Linked DNA regions of Homo sapiens: region 2 is linked to region 1. A link means that fine-mapping ties the variant in region 1 to the expression of a gene that starts in the linked region. Tissue or cell type: whole blood. Region 1 holds a variant in brackets; the other region holds the start of a gene. All regions are shown on one strand. Distances are from middle to middle.

Region 1 (8,175 bases):
GCAGTCAGGGCCTCCTGCTCTTGTCCCTGCCCCCGAGTCCCTTGTTCTCGCCATCCCCTCCACTGCACCTGTGAGGGGCCTCCAGGCTGGGTGACATCTGAGCATTCGCGGTCCAAGTGGTGTGGGGACTGGGGTCGAGAAAAGGAGAGGGGGGCCGGGCCCGGTGGCTCACGCCTGTCATCCCAGCAATTTGGGAGGCCAAGGTGGGCAGATCACTTGAGGTCGGGAGCTCGAGACACGCCAACATGGTAAAACCCCGTCTCTACTAAAAATACAAAAATTAGCCGGTCATGGTGGCGCATGCCTGTAGTCCCAGCAGCTACTCGGGAGGCTGAGGCAGGAGAATCACTTGAACCTGGGAGGTGGAGGTTGCAGTGAGCCGAGATCTTGCTACTGCACTCAAGCCCAGGTGACAAGAGCGAAATTCTATCTCAAAAAAAAAAAAAAAAAGAAAAGGAGAGAGGCTGGTGGCTGGAGGCAGGGGTGGAGGCAGGGGGTCGCCTGCCCACTGGCTGCTCCTCCGTCAGCCTCCTGTCATGCACACCCCGCACACGTGTGCACCACCGCTCAAACCATAAATATGGGCAGGGCCAGGAGCAGCACGTGGGGCTGAACACTGGGCGTAGTGGCTCCTCATCCCCCGCCACCATGCACAGCCTCGCTGAGCCCCCAGGCCCAGCCCTGTGCCTGCCCGGCCCTCAGTCTTGCCATCTGGTCAGTGGGTGGGGCTCCCACATCTCCAGGGGTGGCCCCCCGAACACCTACAGTCGGGTGAGTCTGTTTATGAGCCGGGACTCCCACCCCAATCCCAATTCTCCCAATTCTCTTTGGGTCAGGAGGGGAAATTGAGGCCCAGAAGGTCACTCTAGCCTCCTCTGGAGCACGGCCCCTCAGGCGCTGGCAGGGTGTGGGCTGGTCCTGTCTGTCTGTCCATTGTTCCACGGCCACCAGGGCCCCTGACCACCCCACCCCCACTGCAGAGAGGAGGCCCTGTGGGGAGGGAGTGGGGCGGGGTGCCGTGGAGGGGGCCTGGGGGGTGTGGGGAGGGCCAGACCTGTTAACAAGCTTCTTCCCAGCCTCACCCGCCTTCAACTCCCCAGCCCTTCCCAGGCGGAAAATTCAATTAGTCTCGAGCAACTGCTTTGCTGAAGAGCCAGAGAAAGGGGACCCGCCTGGCGGCTGTTGTGTGTGTTGGGGGAGGGGGGATGAGGGGGATGCAGAGGCAGCAGGAGGGAGGGTTAGGAGGTAAACAGGCTGCTGGTGCATGCAGTCCACCGGGTCCCTGTCTCTGTGCGTCTCTAGAGGTGGGTCTTTGTATGTGACTGTGTGTCCTGGGCCCCTGTGTGCCCACCTCTGCTCCTGCACAAACACAGCCCCTGGAATATTCCGTGTGTGCCCCTCTGTCCCCTTAGCCAAAGCGTCAAACCGGCTCATCTTAAGTCAAGCTCGGCTCTAGGTTCTCATGGCTGGGTGCCTGAGGTGGGGAGCACCCCCCTGCAAACTGCATCATGCCACGCTCTACTCACAGGGGTGTGGTGTGGCCCCAGGTCTCCCAGACTAGGTGTCCCCGCCCCCACCTTGGCTCCACACTGGCCTCTTGTCCCATCCTCTGTCAGCATCCTGGCCACAGGGCCTTTGCACATCCTGCCTCCCCCACGCCTGGTAAGCTTCCACTTACGAACCTTGCCTCCAGCAAGCCCAGGCCTCTTCTGTCTCCCATCACCACTGGGCCGCACAGCCAGCTGCCAGAAGTTTCCTCTGTCGAGGGGTGGAGGGCAGTCTTGTGTGGACTACCCACCGTCCCTGTGACCAGCACCGGGCCCAGCACACAGCAGGTGCTCAGTACATTTTTTGTTTGTCTGTCTGTTTGTTTGTTTGTTTTGAGACAGAGTCACTCTGTCGCCTGGGCTGGAGTGCAGTGGTGTGATCTCGGCTCACTGCAACCTCCACCTCCCAGGTTCAAGAGATTCTCCTGCCTCAGCCTCCCAAGTAGCTGGGATTACAGGCACGCACCACCACGCCTGGCTAATTTTTTGTATTTTTAGTAGAGACAGGGTTTCGCCATGTTGGCCAGGTTGGTCTCAAATTCCTGAGCTCAAGCAATCCAAACCCACCTCAGCCTCCCAAAGTGCCGGGATTACAGGCATGGGCCACCGCACCCAGCCAAGTGCTCAATAAATGTTGAGTACATTGATGAAGTGCCCAAGGGGGTCTGAGCACAACTCTCAGGCCCACATAGGAGTTTAGAAATGACAATGAGTTCTGCACGCCCCTCTCTACCTGGTGGACTCCTATGCATCCTGCTATGGCCTGATTTTCAGTACCCTCTCCTCCAGGAGAGGCTCTGAGGATCAGTGAGAACAAGCATTGCAGCTTGGCCTCAGCCTGAGGTGTCTGTGCTTTCCTCTGGGACCCTCTCCCCTGGTCTCTAGCCCATGGTCTCCCAGGTCCCACCCAGGTACCCCTGATGGGATGAGGGGCAGACCTCCTTACTCTGCTGTGATTGCATCCCGGACCTGCAGGGAGAAGAGCCGGCCAGCCTGGCCTCTACCCAGAAGCAATCTGTGCTGCCCGGAGTGCAGGATGGGGACAGAGCTGCCCATCTGACCAGCCCTGCCGCACTGCCCTCTTCCTCCCTCCACCTTCCCTGGCCCTAAAGCCCCCAATCCCTGCATGAGGAGTGGGGGGTACCCAGTTGAGTCAGACGCTCGTGGGTGTCCAGGAGCTGGGGGCAGCCATGGACAGGGCGTTCCTTCCCAGGTCGGGGGGGCCCTGCTCCCAGTACACAGGAGGGTCTGGGGCCACCAGGCGCACAGGAAGCCTCGGGAAAATTTGTCAAAGGGCTGAGGGAGTCACCCACAGGAGGAACAGGGGGTGACGGGCATGGACAGGGTCCCCAGACCCTGCCGGGGTGGGGCCCGGTGCCCATGTGACCTGTCAAAGCGGGTTTGGGATGGGGAGGGGGCCCCAGGGTCTGCTGGGGAAGGAGGGGGCGTGGGAAGGGCCAGATGTAGGGAGGGGCAGCGTGTGCAGGAATGCGGGCGGCCCCTCCTCTTCCCCGAGAGACAGAGGCAGATGGCAGGCTGGGGGCGCTGAGGATGGAGGGGGAGGCCAGCCAGCCCCGGCTCTGATGGGTGCCTATGGCCCCTCCCCCAGAGTTGAGGGGGACACAACCTTCTCAAGTTCCCAGCCCCATAACCTCTGCCAGCTGCGTGCAGCTGGGGCCATGCCCGGAGGAAACCCAACACCATGGGGGGGTGGACCCCGGGCCCGGCTGCTTCCTCATCAGGACTGTTTGTGAGCTGCTGGGATGCTCATCCCAGGGGCTGCAGGCCGGTGCTACAAGAAGTGACAAGGGTGGCCCCCAAGCC[C/T]GGGTGTCACCACCCCAGTAAAGGCTGGAGGGTGCTGCGTAGATGCAGCTCCCTGCTTGGAGGACCGCCTAGCGCACCCTGTGATCACAGTAGCCCCTCACGAGCTCCAAGCTGCACACAACCTCCAGGAAGAACAGGATCCTGAAGCTGGAGAGGTCGAGGCCAGGTTAGGGTATGGGGTACCCAGGGTAGGGGAGGCAGGAGCAAGAAGCTGCTCAGCCTCCACTCTTGAGCCTCAGTTTCCTCACAAGGGCCCTGGCCCCCAGCAAAGGGCTGTGATCTCACCTCCTAGCTGGCCAACCTCCCAAAGCTCCTTTCTCACGTGCGGGCCTCATCGAGTCCCTTAGTGGGACAGGGCAGAGCCCACCCGGAGGTCCCATGGAGAGCCTGCCTTTGCCCCCATCCCTACCCTGGAGCTCTGCACTCCCTCAAGTATACCCTACTCTTCAGGCAGGGAGACTGAGGCCCTGCCCAGAGCTGCCCCGTCTCAGCTCCCTGGTTCCTGCCCAGAGCCCGGAGTGGGGGCTGTGTGGGGAGGGGCTGCCAGATGGCTGTAATCCCATGTCAACAGGGGTTTAGACACCTGCTCAGCTCCTTGCCACCCCCTCAGGCCTGCCCCGCATTCCGGCACATCTCGGCTTCCAAGGGGCTTTCCCCACTTGGCTGGAGTCTGGGCCTCCCACACTGGGGTGGGGGTGCTGTCTCCCCACCCCTGCCCCATCTGAAGCACAGACTTCACAGCCTGGTCTCAAAGGCCAGGCCTGCCGCTGCCCCCACTCACTGTCCTGCCACGGGTCCAGGCCTGGGAATGGGCTGGGCACTGTGGCAAATCACACGAGTGAATTTTCTGGACAATTGGGGCTGGAGATGTGGTGGTGTCTGAAGCAGCATCATGGGGCTGGGTCAGGGAGGCTGAGGCCCCCACTTGGTGCTGAGCCGCAGAGGAGGGATGGCAAGAGGTCTTGGGAAGGGGTCTACTGCTGGGGCAGAGGGTCCCAGGGCTGAGCTCCGGGGTGGCCAGGTCAGGTGGGCAGGACCTGGTGGGTGGAGGCTGGGGGAATGGTGAACGGGGCAGGCAGAGCTGGAGGCCAGGGCCCTGTGGAAGGAGCCAGGACCGGGGTCTGTGAGACAGGAGGGCCCAGTGCCCACATGGCTGAGGCTAGCTCTGGGACAATCTCCTGATGCGGACATGGGTCACGTCTGGAGACAAGCCCTTGGAGGAACTGGAGCTTAGAGTTGTAGTTGGAGCTGGGATCAGCTGGGAATGAGGACAGGGGTCAGGCGAGCCTCGGGGGTGCTAGCTTCTTCCCATGCTGGGATCCCTGCTCTGTCTATCCAGGTGACCTTCCCCTGCCCTACGCTGTGGCCCACAAGCCTGACTTGAGCCAGCTCATCCACTTAGGAAATGCAACCCCTGGCCAGAGCACGTCCACAATGAGGACTGCCCCCAGCGACGCCCCACCCTGGACCCCTGTTTAGTGGTAGCCAAGCCAGGTAACACTCAGCCCCTCTCAAGCCTGGGAGTCAGACCAGGTAACACGCAGGCCCTCCCACTCAGGGTCTGAGTCTACGTGGGTCCTGGACATTCCGTTCCGACCTGCAGGGGTGCCGAGAGGGTTGGGGAGGAAGGTGGAAGCTGGTTCTTGTTCCGGCCCAGCACCTGGCCCCCTGGCCACCCCACCCACCCTGGAAACCCCCCTCCTGGCTCCCTTCTTTCAGAGTGGGACAGGCCTTTCAGGGCTAGGAACGGAGGGCCTGGATTTCCATGTCAATGGCGAGGCAGGCCCGCCTGGTAAGCTGCTTAACAAGCCTCCAGCCCCATTGGGGTGTTAACTCAGGCCCCATTCTCCGGGCCCAGTCTCGCGGTTGCCATGGTGCCCTGCGTGGCCCTTTGGGCCGCGGCTAATCCCTTCTCTGGGCCTCTCATCCCGGCTGTCCCACCCCCGGGCTGGTCGCTGGTGACTTGGCCATGCCCAACAAGGCTGGTTTCTCTGCCGGGGTCAGGGGAGGTCATAAATCCAGCCCCCGTGGTCCCCAGCCCCTCGGCCCCGGCGCTTTGTCCCCGCCACTGTCCCCACATCCCCGGCCCTCCCGCTCTGGGAACTCCAGTGGTGGGAAGCGCGTTTGCCAGGTGGTCAGCCCCTCTCCCTGAGGAGAGAAGGGTCCCCGGCCCTGCCCTGGCTCTCTCCTGCACCCTGGTCACTATCACCCCTTATTCTCCCTCCTTTCCACTCCAGCCCTTCCAGGAATGAGCCAGGCTCATCCCTCAGGGCCTTCACTCCAGTCTTCTCATCCTTGGGTCGGGAGCGGTGAGCTCTTCCCCAGCCCGCGTCCCCGAAAGTCTCCCCTGGAATGACCCTTCCTTCCTCCGAGAGGCTGCAGGCCTGGCCCCCCCATCCTGTGGCACTGTCCCTTCTAGCACTCCATGAGAATCACGTGCTGTCCACCCTAATCCAGGGGGCAGGCCTGCAGCACCCAGGATGTGGCTGGCCTGTGGCAGGCTCTGCCACTCTGCGTGAAAGATAGCAGCTCTCGGCTGGGCGCAGTGACTCACGCCTGTAATCCCAGCACTTTGGGAAGCCGAGGCAGGTGGATCATGAGGTCAGGAGACCGAGACCTCAGCCGAGGTGGATCATCTGAAGTCACGAGTTAAAGACTAGCCTGGCCAACATGGTGAAACTCCATCTCTACTAAAAATACAAAAGATTAACTGGGCGTAGTGGTGCTCACCTGTAGTCCCAGCTACTCGAGAGGGTGAGACAGGAGAATCACTTGAACCTGGGAGAAGGAGGTTGCAGTGAGCCAAGATCACGCCGTTGAGCTCCAGTCTGGGCAACAAGAGTGAAACGGTCTCAAAAAAAAAAAAAGAGGGCCGGGCGCGGTGGCTCACGCCTGTAATCCCAGCACTTTGGGAGGCTGAGGCAGGCGAATCATGAGAGACCGGTGAAACCCCATCTCTACTAAAAATACAAAAAATTAGCTGGGTGCGGTGGCAGGCGCCTGTAGTCCCAGCTGTTCGGGAGGCTGAGGCAGGAGAATGGCGTGAACCCGGAAGGCAGAGCTTGCAGTGAGCCGAGATCACGCCACTGCACTCCAGCCTGGGCGACAGAGCGAGACTCCATCTCAAAAAAAAAAAAAAAAAAAAAAAGAAGAGAAAGATAGTGGTTCTCAGCTGCAGAGGGGGTATGGCCTGAGGTCAACAGCAGTCAAAGGGTTGGTCACCCCCGGGGTCCGGGCTGACCTGACTCCACCTTTGGGGTCTCACCTGAGCCAGCTCCTCCCTGGCCCCAGAATCTCACCTCAGAGACCACCTTCCCTCCTTCCAGCAGCGTCTGTTCCCAGAAGACAGGATCCCGGGATCCTGGAATTCCCGGCCGAGGTGTGATCTAAGGTTCACCAATTAGCCTGGACTCCAACTTCATGCTTGCTCCCCGGCCCTCCTCCCCTGCCAGCTTCTGCTTACCTGCCTCCCAATAGGGAGCTCACCATCTGGGCAGTTCGGACAGGGAGAAAGTGTCTCCTTGGGTGTTTGCTTCCAGATCTGGGCTTGGGCTTGGACGGCCGGGAACCATAGCTCAATGGGCTTTGCCCCTGCTGGTGGCTCCCAGCCTTGGGGTGCAGTGGGTGACTGCTCGCTCTCAGCTCTCAGCTCCCTGGCTGGGCCGTGGGTGAGTGGCTGTTGGCCAGGGCCTAGGCCCTATATACCCAAGCATCCCCTGAAGGTGCAGTGCAGAGGGGCCCAGCCTGTCCCCTAGAAGTGAGGTGCAGAGGGACCCAGCCTGTCCCCTGAAGGTGGGGTGCAGAAGGGCCCAGCCTGTCCCCGGAAGGTGGGGTGCAGAGGGACCCAGCCTGTCCCCTGGAGGTGGGGTGTGGGGGGCCCAGCCTGTCCCCTGGAGGTGGGATGTGGGGGGCCCAGCCTGTCCCCTGGAGGTGGGGTGCGGGGGACCCAGCCTGTCCCCTGGTGGTGGGGCATTGGGTCCCAGCCTGTCCCCTGGAGGTAGCTGTGGGAGATCTAGCCTGTCCCTTGGCCATGGGGAGTGGGGGTCCCAGCCTGTCCTCCCCACAGCTGGGCATGTACTGAGGGTTGCCCACAGCCTTTATTGCCCTTCGGTGTCTCATGGAAATTTCGTGGGGTTGGAAGGACAAGAAATGGTCCCATTTGGCAGCTGAGTAAACTGAGTCTTAGGAGGAAAGGCTGAGGCCTCCTGGGGGAGGCAGAGGCTGACACTGACCCTGCGGGTCCTGCAGCTAGAGGGAAACAGCCCCAGCCCACGTCTCACTGACGCCCTCTCCCCTCGGGATGGCTCTCGGACTCCTGTGGCCCAGACACCCACGCCCAGGCCCCCTCCCACGAGCCACCACCAGGGCTCTCGGCTCCCTGAAGCCCACCCTGCCAGGGGCAGTCCCGAAGGTGGGGGCCATCGGGGTGGGACGCTGAGCAATGCTGGGGTGAGGGGACAGGAGGTGCAAGATGAGGTGAGGGTGCTAGGACCCCGGGAGGTGGGCGGAACACGGAGGTCATTTGGGGTGGGGGGTGTGTGGTAGGGGGTGTGCTGGCTGGGCGGGACCCCGGGAGATGGGGGGAGCGAGGAGGTCATTTGGGGGTATGGGGGGTGTGAGGTGAGAGAGGCCAGCTGGGGGGAGGGTCACGGAGGCCTCTGGGCAGAGTGGGAGGAGGAAGCTCCTGTCAGCCTCAGTTTCCCCATCTGCCACAGGAGCTGAGGAGGGGTTTGGCACCTCTAGGGCTTCTCAGGAGGTCTGGCAACAAGGCCTCCCATACACCCCGCATTGGGGAGGGATGGTC
Region 2 (8,135 bases), 21 kb after region 1:
AGCCTGGGGGTTGGCATTCCTGCGTCTGTGTCAGGAGAGGACAGGGAGGTGCAGGCTTGCCCGAGCCACAGCCACCACCATGCTGAGTCCTGTCCAGGAGTTTCCATCTCTGGGCACTGCTACTGGCCCAGAGGAAGCTGGTTCCCAAGACACTGAGTGGGGCCGCTCTCCATCAGCCGATGAGTGGACAGGCGCCTCGGATGGCTTCCTGCCGAGTTAATGGGTCACCCATTATGTCTCCACAGATCTTCCCAGGACCCTGCAGGAAGGCAGGCCAGAGCAGCCCCAAGGAACAGCCCGGGGGAGGGAAGGCAGATGGCCACCTCAAAGCCAGCCCCGAGCCCTTCCCCTCTAGGCCTGAGTGTCAAGGGCAGACCCAGCCCATGGCTTTGGGGACCTGGTGGCACTGACTCCAGCAGGAGAACCCCCGGGCTGAGCCCTGGCAGTTAGAGGAGGCCTGGACTCAGATGGGGACAGAACACTGTCTCAGCCTGATGGCGGCTAGAGGAGGAGGGTAGGGCCCCTGGTCATGTGGGTCCTGGCTCCGTGGGCCTGCTTTCCACCTGACCTCAGCAGGCAGGTCTCTCGGGCCATTCGCACACCCAGCTGCCTGGGAGCCCCAAACTGGGACTGGTGGAGGGGCCCTGCAGAGGGGAAGACTAGGGTCCAAGAAGCCCATGAAGCCATGCGCCAGGGCCAGAGCTGGCCTGCCTGGTCTGGATGGTATGTCATCCTTGTGTTACAAGTGAGGAAACTGAGGCTCAGGGAGTAACACCACCGGTTCAAGGTCTTAAAGCCGAGAAGTGGCCCCTCTGGGTTCGGAAGGCAGGCTGGGCCCTGGGGCAGCCTCTATCCCCAGCCCCTCTTCCCCAGGACCCTACGGCCCCAAGAGGCTTCACTGGCAACTCGGTCAGCCCTCTCTAGCCCCCTCCCCAGCTCCCCTTTGTCCTGTCCAGGGCTGAGCACCATCCCACAGCCCACTTCCCTACCAGGGCTGTGTGGCCCAGTGGGCCCCTAGAGGGAGACCTGGGGTCTGGATGGGGAGGGAAGTGTTTCAGGCTGAAGCTGAGCCTGGGGAAGCGGGCGGGGGTGGCTAGGCGGGCCACCCCCTCAACAGTTTTCAGACCTCAAGAAGTCACCACGAAATTCCATTCTCCTGACAGCAAAGAAATTGATTCACTCTTGCCAAAGCCTGCGGCCCCCACAAGAATGCTGTAAAGCTTCCTCCCGCTGCTTCCAGACAGGCAGCAGCATCAGGTCCCCCACTCCTCCCATTCCTGGCTACAGAGAGACGCGGGAACCCCCCCTACCCAGTTCTATGCATGTGCCCCTGCCAGGCTGGGCCATCCACCTCTGTATGGTCACTCCCTTGGTACAATATCCCCCTTGCTTTCTCTACAATGGGCACATTGCTCCCACGACCTGCTGGGTCAAAGGCACCGCAGTCAGGGGTAGCTGGGGAGCAGGAGTTGCGGGGGTGGGGCGGCTCAGGGCAGGAAGCCCCATCCCCTGGCCTGGGAACTGTGGGGAGATGGACTCACAGCATCTTGTCAGGTGGGGTGCAGGGTGGCATGGCACCCACCATCGGTGCCACTGATGTAAAGTCCAGGTACAGAGCACAACCCGTGCACATATTTGGGGGCTTGGCCATGCTTGGCTGCAGGGGATTGAGGAGGGATTGGGCCTCAAGAAACGGGGCTGGGACTAAGTCACGAGGTGCGTGAATATCAGGCGGGACTTTAACTCAGCCAGTGGAGAGCTATGGAGGGTTTTGCTCTTTGTGTGGGTGTGTGAGTGGCTATGATCCTAGTTGTCCAGCTGCTGCGTGGAGAATAAGTAAAGCAGGTAGGATAGGAGTGGGTGGGATGGGGGTGGAGGCTGCCCAAGTGATTCAGGGAAGAGATGATGGGGATGGATGAGGCTCCGTCTCTGAAACAATTCAGATATGGGAGAGCCTGAAGTCAGCGGTGTGACTGAAGCACGTGGGGTCATGGACACCCCTCAGTCCGGAGGCTGGGGCTGGGCTGGGACTCAGCTGACTTTGTGGGGGCAGCCAACCCAGTCACTGGGTCCTTTTCTCCCCGGCTCACCCTCAAGCCTCTCCAGCTGCATGGAGGCTCCAGGGCTAGGCTCTGGCTGATCGGAAGGGGTTTATGGCAGGAGGTGACGCCATGGGAGACTTGTCACTTGGGCACAGCCAGCACCATCTGCTGGGGCATCTGCTTTCGGAGGTGGTGACTGCTAATTACCTGGGGCCAGGAAGAGGCCTGGGAACCCCCATCCCCCACACCACCCAGCGGGTACAGGGGCTAGGGGTGGGGCCCCTGGGGCCCTAAGAGCAAATGGGCTACAGCGTCCTTAGCGGGGGGAGAGGGTCTGACAGTGGGGCCAGACATTTATCCAGTGAATTTTTTCAGAGCACCTACTATGTCCCAAAACCTGTTCCAGGTCTGAATGACACCAGGTCGCTGCTGTCTTGCGGCTGACATTCAGGTAGAGGTAAGGAGAGGGGCTCCAAGGGCACTTAAAGAATTTAAAATGCCATCTCAGGCGTGAACATAACTCCGAGGGGGGCAGTTTAGCCACGGTGGTGGCGGTGGTGGTCGTGGTGGTCGCAGAGACCCTGCTTAGGAGGGCACGGGAAGACAGCGCAGCCACGGGCAGAGCCGCCTCCGTCCACGCTTCCGGAGGACGTGGCGGGCAGGGGGCTCACACCCTGCTCAGGCGACCCTTGGCCACTTCCGGGCCCCTCGCCCCTCACCCTCGGCTGCCGGCGCGCATTCCTGCCGCCCCCGCTCGTGCGAGGGGCGGGCCCGGGCCCGTGGGAAGGGCCGGGGATGGGGGCCGTGTGCCGGGGAGGCGGGGTGGGGAGGGCGCACAGCTGGGCCGCATCTGGCCCGAGCGCAAGGAGACCAAATGGGACAGAAGGCGGCCTTTCATCCGGCGAGGGAAGTGGCGGCCTTCGTTTCTCCTCGCCATGGGGCGCCTGAGGATTTCGGGGAGCCAACCCTCCCGACGGAGGGCCAGGATCGAGGAAATCAGCCAGGGAGGAAGGAGTGGAATTTGGTTCTGGTGCTTTCTCGTTAGAACCTCGTGTCCCCACCTGCGGCACAGGTGGCCAAGCTCTTGCTCTGTACAAATAACGGCTCCCCTGAACCGAGCGCTCGGGAAGACCCAGGCGCCACCCCAGTTTGCAAGGCCTGCCGCGTCCCAAGGGGAGGAAGCCGTGCTCAGGAGGGGAAGCGCACAGCGAGGAAGTAGGATGTCCCCCGCGGTGCGTCGGAGCCCAGAGCCCGGGTCTCAGCACCCTGCCCGCTGCGCCGAGGGCGCGCCCCTCCCGTGCCGGGACGCCCGGTGCATCCCCGGACGGCGCTGGCCAGGCTGGGTTTCCTCTTCAGGGACACCGGCGCGGGCCGGGCCCGTCCCCAAGCCCCTCGGCGGCCCGCAGGGGCTACCCGGGGCGGGGGGGGTGCGGGGCGTGCACGTGCGCGCCGGGGGCGGGGCCGCTGCGCCCTCTGGGCAGTTCCCAGCCCCCAGCCGCGGCCCCACGTGGGTCTGCGGGCGTGGAGCGGCGACCGGCGCGAGGCCCCGCCCCCGAGCCCGGGAGCCAATGAGCGCACGGGGGCGGGACCGGGGCGGGGAGGTTTAAGAGCGCGGGACACTGGTGCTGCGCTGCTGGACTGCGCCGCCGGAGCGACGGGCTTCGGGTCGGTGCAAGGCAGGCGCACGGGGAAGGGCGCGCCGCGCGGCCGCCACCCCACCATGCTCAAGCGCTGCGGCCGGCGCCTGCTGCTGGCGCTGGCGGGCGCGCTGCTCGCCTGCCTGCTGGTGCTCACCGCCGACCCGCCGCCGCCTCCACTGCCCGCCGAGCGCGGCCGGCGCGCGCTGCGCAGCCTGGCGGGCCCCGCGGGGGCTGCCCCGGCGCCCGGGCTGGGGGCGGCGGCGGCGGCGCCCGGGGCGCTGGTCCGCGACGTGCACAGTCTGTCCGAGTACTTCAGCCTGCTCACCCGCGCGCGCAGAGATGCGGGCCCGCCGCCCGGGGCTGCCCCCCGCCCCGCCGACGGCCACCCGCGCCCCCTGGCCGAGCCGCTCGCGCCCCGAGACGTCTTCATCGCTGTCAAGACCACCAAAAAGTTCCACCGCGCGCGCCTCGACCTGCTGCTGGAGACCTGGATCTCGCGCCACAAGGAGATGGTGAGCCCCCCGCGGCCTGGACTGGCGGGCGAGCGGGGCGGGGACCCACCATCTGGTCCAGCTGGTGGCAGTGTCCCATGGGAGTCAGGCTGCATCCCCATCCAGCCACTAGGGCCATCTGTGGGCGACGCCAGTGCACCCCGGTGCACCCAGTTTGCCTGCTGGGGCCACTCTCCCGTTACAGTTGTGTTACTGTCCCCGGGGCCCCGCCTCCTGTCCAGCTCCAGAGTCCTGGATGGCTGCAGGACCCTACACCAGTCTCCAGTGCTTGGGGTTGGTGCCCTGTGATACTTCTCACCCCGTAAACATTGGAGCGCATTCATAGGGCATTATGTCCTCAAACTTCCACAAGCAAATTCTGTTCGGACCCACCCTCAGCTCAGACCCCTTCCTGGGGAGAAAGGCTCTTCCTTTAGAGAAGTGAGGGGTTCTGACCTCTGGGCCCTTTCCTCATCACAGTGTTAAGGTACGGGGAGGGAGGGAAGTCATTGCTGGTTGGTGGGTCCTGGGGAGTACATCTCAAAGAACTCCAGGTTTTGGGGTCTGTGTGGGGACCCTCCCCGCACAGTGCAGTAGTCTCTGAGGCCTGCAACCTTGGGCACAGCCCACTTCAGTTGGGCATCAGCTTCTTACACACACATAATTAAGACACACCCCACTTTGAACATTTCCCTCGAGGCCACAGCAGGACGGTTGGGCTGGGGCGGGATGGGGACAGTGTGTGGGGCTTGCAGTCGGGGACTGGGGGGGTGTCTCTGGGCTGGGAGATGCAGAGGCATTTGCTGTGAGGGTGGGGGCTCAGGGAAGACCCTGCACGCCTTCCTCCCTGCTCAAACCCCGGAGACCCAGGGCCTTCTGACCTGGCGCTGTCCTGTTTTGGGGCACTGTGGGTGGGTGGGAGCAGGGCTTGGTGAGGTCATGAGGGCGACGGGGAGGGGCAGGGTCCTCCCTGGTCCTGGCGTGGGGAAGGGGCCCTGGGAACCCCATGGCAGCCTCCTGGGAACACAGCGTCCCATTCCCAGGGGCTCAGCGGGCTGGCGGGAGGGGGCGGCGGGGGCCGTGGGTTTTGTTTGGCGGCCGGGCCGTTAGGATTCCCAGCGCCGGGCGGCTCTCACGCCGGCCCCTTGGGCAAGGTAACAAAGCCCCTTTCTCCAGCGAGAAAGGCGTCGGGCCCCTTGTGTGCAGCTACGCGCTCCGTGGGAACCGCTGCTGGCGTGCTGGCCACTCAGGTTGCCTGGCGATGAGGGGACCAGCGGGCCCCCCCAGCATCTCTTACTGACAGTCCTTTTGGGGCACCATCCCTGAGCCTGGCCCCCCCACCCCCAGCACTCAAGCCTTACTGCTATGTGATCTTGGGCATCCTTCAGCCCCACTCTGGGCTACCACCAGCTCTGAGCACCTCTCATCTTGGAATTTGGGGCCTTTCTCCAACAGAGGGGATGTGGTCAGAGGGCTGGGCTGTGTGATCCTGAGCAAGACCTGGGGCCTCTCAGACCCTCACTCTGATCTCTGAAATGGGGGAACATGGTCCTTCCAGGAGCACGTTGTAAGAGACTGGCAAAGCCTGCAGGCATGGGGTGAACCCGGCGGGCACTCAGGGTCGAGGTGGGGGCCATCACTCCCTTGAGCCCTGAGGTCCCTACTGGAGGGTCACCCCACCAGGGGACAGGTTGAATCTGCCCTCAGCATCAGTTCACCAGCACACAGCAAGCAAAGACCCCCTTGTGGTGGGTGATGGGCAGGGGTCCTGGAAACCCACAGAAGAGGGCCCCCCTCTCCCAGCCCTGCACGGAATGACTCAGACATGGTCTGATGGGGGAGATAGAAAGATGTCAGGGCTGTGCGGGGGGAAAACCCCGAGAGGCTGTGTGAGGCAACAGTGGGCATCTGACCCACATGCTGGGGGAAGGGAGGGAGGAGGGAAGACTTCCTGGAGGAGGCGCCATTTGAGCTAGACTAAGAGTAAAAAAGTGCCCAGAAAGGGCACTCCATCCGGGCATGGTGATGACCACAGCATGGGGGTTGTGCAGGAAACTTCTAGCAACTGGAGTGGTGGCTGGGGGGAGGGTCGGTTGGTCAGCAGGGGCCGCGCTGAGATGGGCCTGGAGTCCAGGATGAAGAGCCTGGCCTTTGGCCCAGAGGTTCCCCGCCCCTCCCAGGAGCAGCCAGGCTGCCGCGCTGCCACCACAGCGGCCACAATTGCTGGGGAGAACTTGGCATCCTGTGTTTCTTTGAATCGCGGCTCCAGGAACAATGCTGCTTCCTGTGGGTGTCCCCCGGCCCCCGCCCCCGTCCACCCTCATCCACCCGGCTCTTCCTCCTGCAGCCCCGTCTTCGTCTGGAAAGTTAGGTGGCACTGGGGGGTCTGGGTCCCTAGAAGGCAGGGACTGGGCTGGTCTAGCACCGCCTCGGCCCCAGGGTATGACCTCAGGCTGGTGCCTGCACCTCTCTGGGCCTCAGTTTCCCCACTTGGGCCTCAGCTGGTAATGGCACCCACCTCCGAGGGCTGTCAGGGAGAGGAAGGGAGAGAATCTGTCTTTGCACTTTGTTCTCTGCCCAGGGGAGCTCTGTTATGCCCATTTTACTGAAGACGAGACTGAGGCTCTGAGCGGCAGGTGAGGCCTATAGCCCAGCAGCGCCTTTTTCCTCCCCTCCTGGTGGCTCAGGTGTCGGGAGACAGTTCGACCGGCACCCCCGCACCCCATAGCCCCGCCTTCTCAGATGCTGTTCTAGAGGCCTCCCTGCTCCCTGAGCTGAACAAAGGTGACTTTAATCTCCGTAGCCTTGGGCTGGGTTTTTAGGGCACCACCAAATCTCGGGAGAACAGGCCTCCCTTGATCTCATTAAGAAAGCATTTTCCTTTTAACCCAGCGGCGCAGTGGAGCGTCTGCAGGGGCTGGCCCTCCGCCTCCCACGGCATTCCTGGGCTGAGATTCTGGGGAGGCCAAGGGGCTGGGTGCGAGTCTGTGCGTGTGGCTGCCCTGGGGTGTCTATGGGTGCTGCAGGAGGGGTGCATGCATGGAGAGGCGGAGACCCAGCCTGCCACCCCCTTAGCTCTGGGCCTCACCCTAGTGAGCATGTGCCCAGGGCTGGGTCAGGCTGGATAAGGATCTGAGACTACCAAGGTGTTCCAGGGCCTCTGCGGGACCTGTGTGTACAGGGAAGGAAACTGAGGCTGGGTGGGCATCAGGGGGTTGTCCCTTGGTCAGAGCATTGCCCGTACACCCTGGGTTTTGCACTCAGCCATGCCAGGGTGCGCCGGGCGGCACGCGCTGGGCGGGCCGGGCAGAGGAAGGAACATTCCTCCCCGTGTGCCGGCAGGCCCAGGCGGGCGCCGGCGACTCCTGGCCCCGCCCTGGCGGCCCCCTCCTCTTCCGCAGAGCGCTCCTGGCAGGGGGCGGCCGCGTGCTGGCACAGGTGGGCTGTGGCCTTGGGCAAGCCTGGGTTTCCTTGCCTGAGCAGTGGGAGGGGTGCTGGGCTGCATGGGTACTGGGGGCCCCTGACCTGGGGGCTGGGGACACCTGAGGTTTCCTGCCACAACCCTGCTGACCGTTGGCAACTTTGCAGAACTTCAGGGCTGCTTTGGCTCAGAGTGGGTAGCTTGTCCTGCAGGTCACCCAGGACAGGGGTGCTGGCCCAAAGGGCAGCTGTGGGGTGGCTGCAGTGCTGGTGGCTGCACCCTACGCGCGGGACCTCATGCCCAGCCTGGCCCGGTTAACCAGGCCAGCTGTATGGTAATGGGCGGCGCGGCCACTCTGCTTAACTCGGCCGAGTTAAGGCCGGCCCGGCGCCCCTCTCCCGCCAGCCCAGGACAAAGCTGGCGGACAATGCCTGGTGATTCATCCTCCCTCCAGGCCCTTTGTCCGCCAGGGCTTGGCAGCCGCCCAGCGAAGGCCTTTGTCCCCAACCCCGAGTGATTGAGACTTGGCTTCCCACAGCCG

What was found. PIP is the estimated chance that this variant, and not a neighbour inherited with it, causes the effect.
Region 2: it holds the start of LFNG, and the variant in region 1 is fine-mapped to the expression of LFNG in whole blood (TOPMed, PIP above 0.99).

Annotation. Positions count from the first base shown.
Region 1 is chr7:2,494,979-2,503,153 of GRCh38, forward strand. No RefSeq gene overlaps it. Among named protein-coding and RNA genes, the nearest start is that of LFNG, 21 kb to the right of the region's middle. RefSeq lists enhancers at 1-468, 4,370-5,336, 5,337-6,302. The variant C/T (reference allele first, on the strand shown) is at 3,372.
Region 2 is chr7:2,516,100-2,524,234 of GRCh38, forward strand. It overlaps LFNG (LFNG O-fucosylpeptide 3-beta-N-acetylglucosaminyltransferase), which reads left to right and starts at 3,675. Exons shown (of 8, transcript NM_001040167.2): 1 at 3,675-4,194. The coding sequence starts at 3,763. RefSeq lists silencers at 3,201-3,730, 3,741-3,850 and enhancers at 5,782-5,911, 5,952-6,011, 6,878-7,390.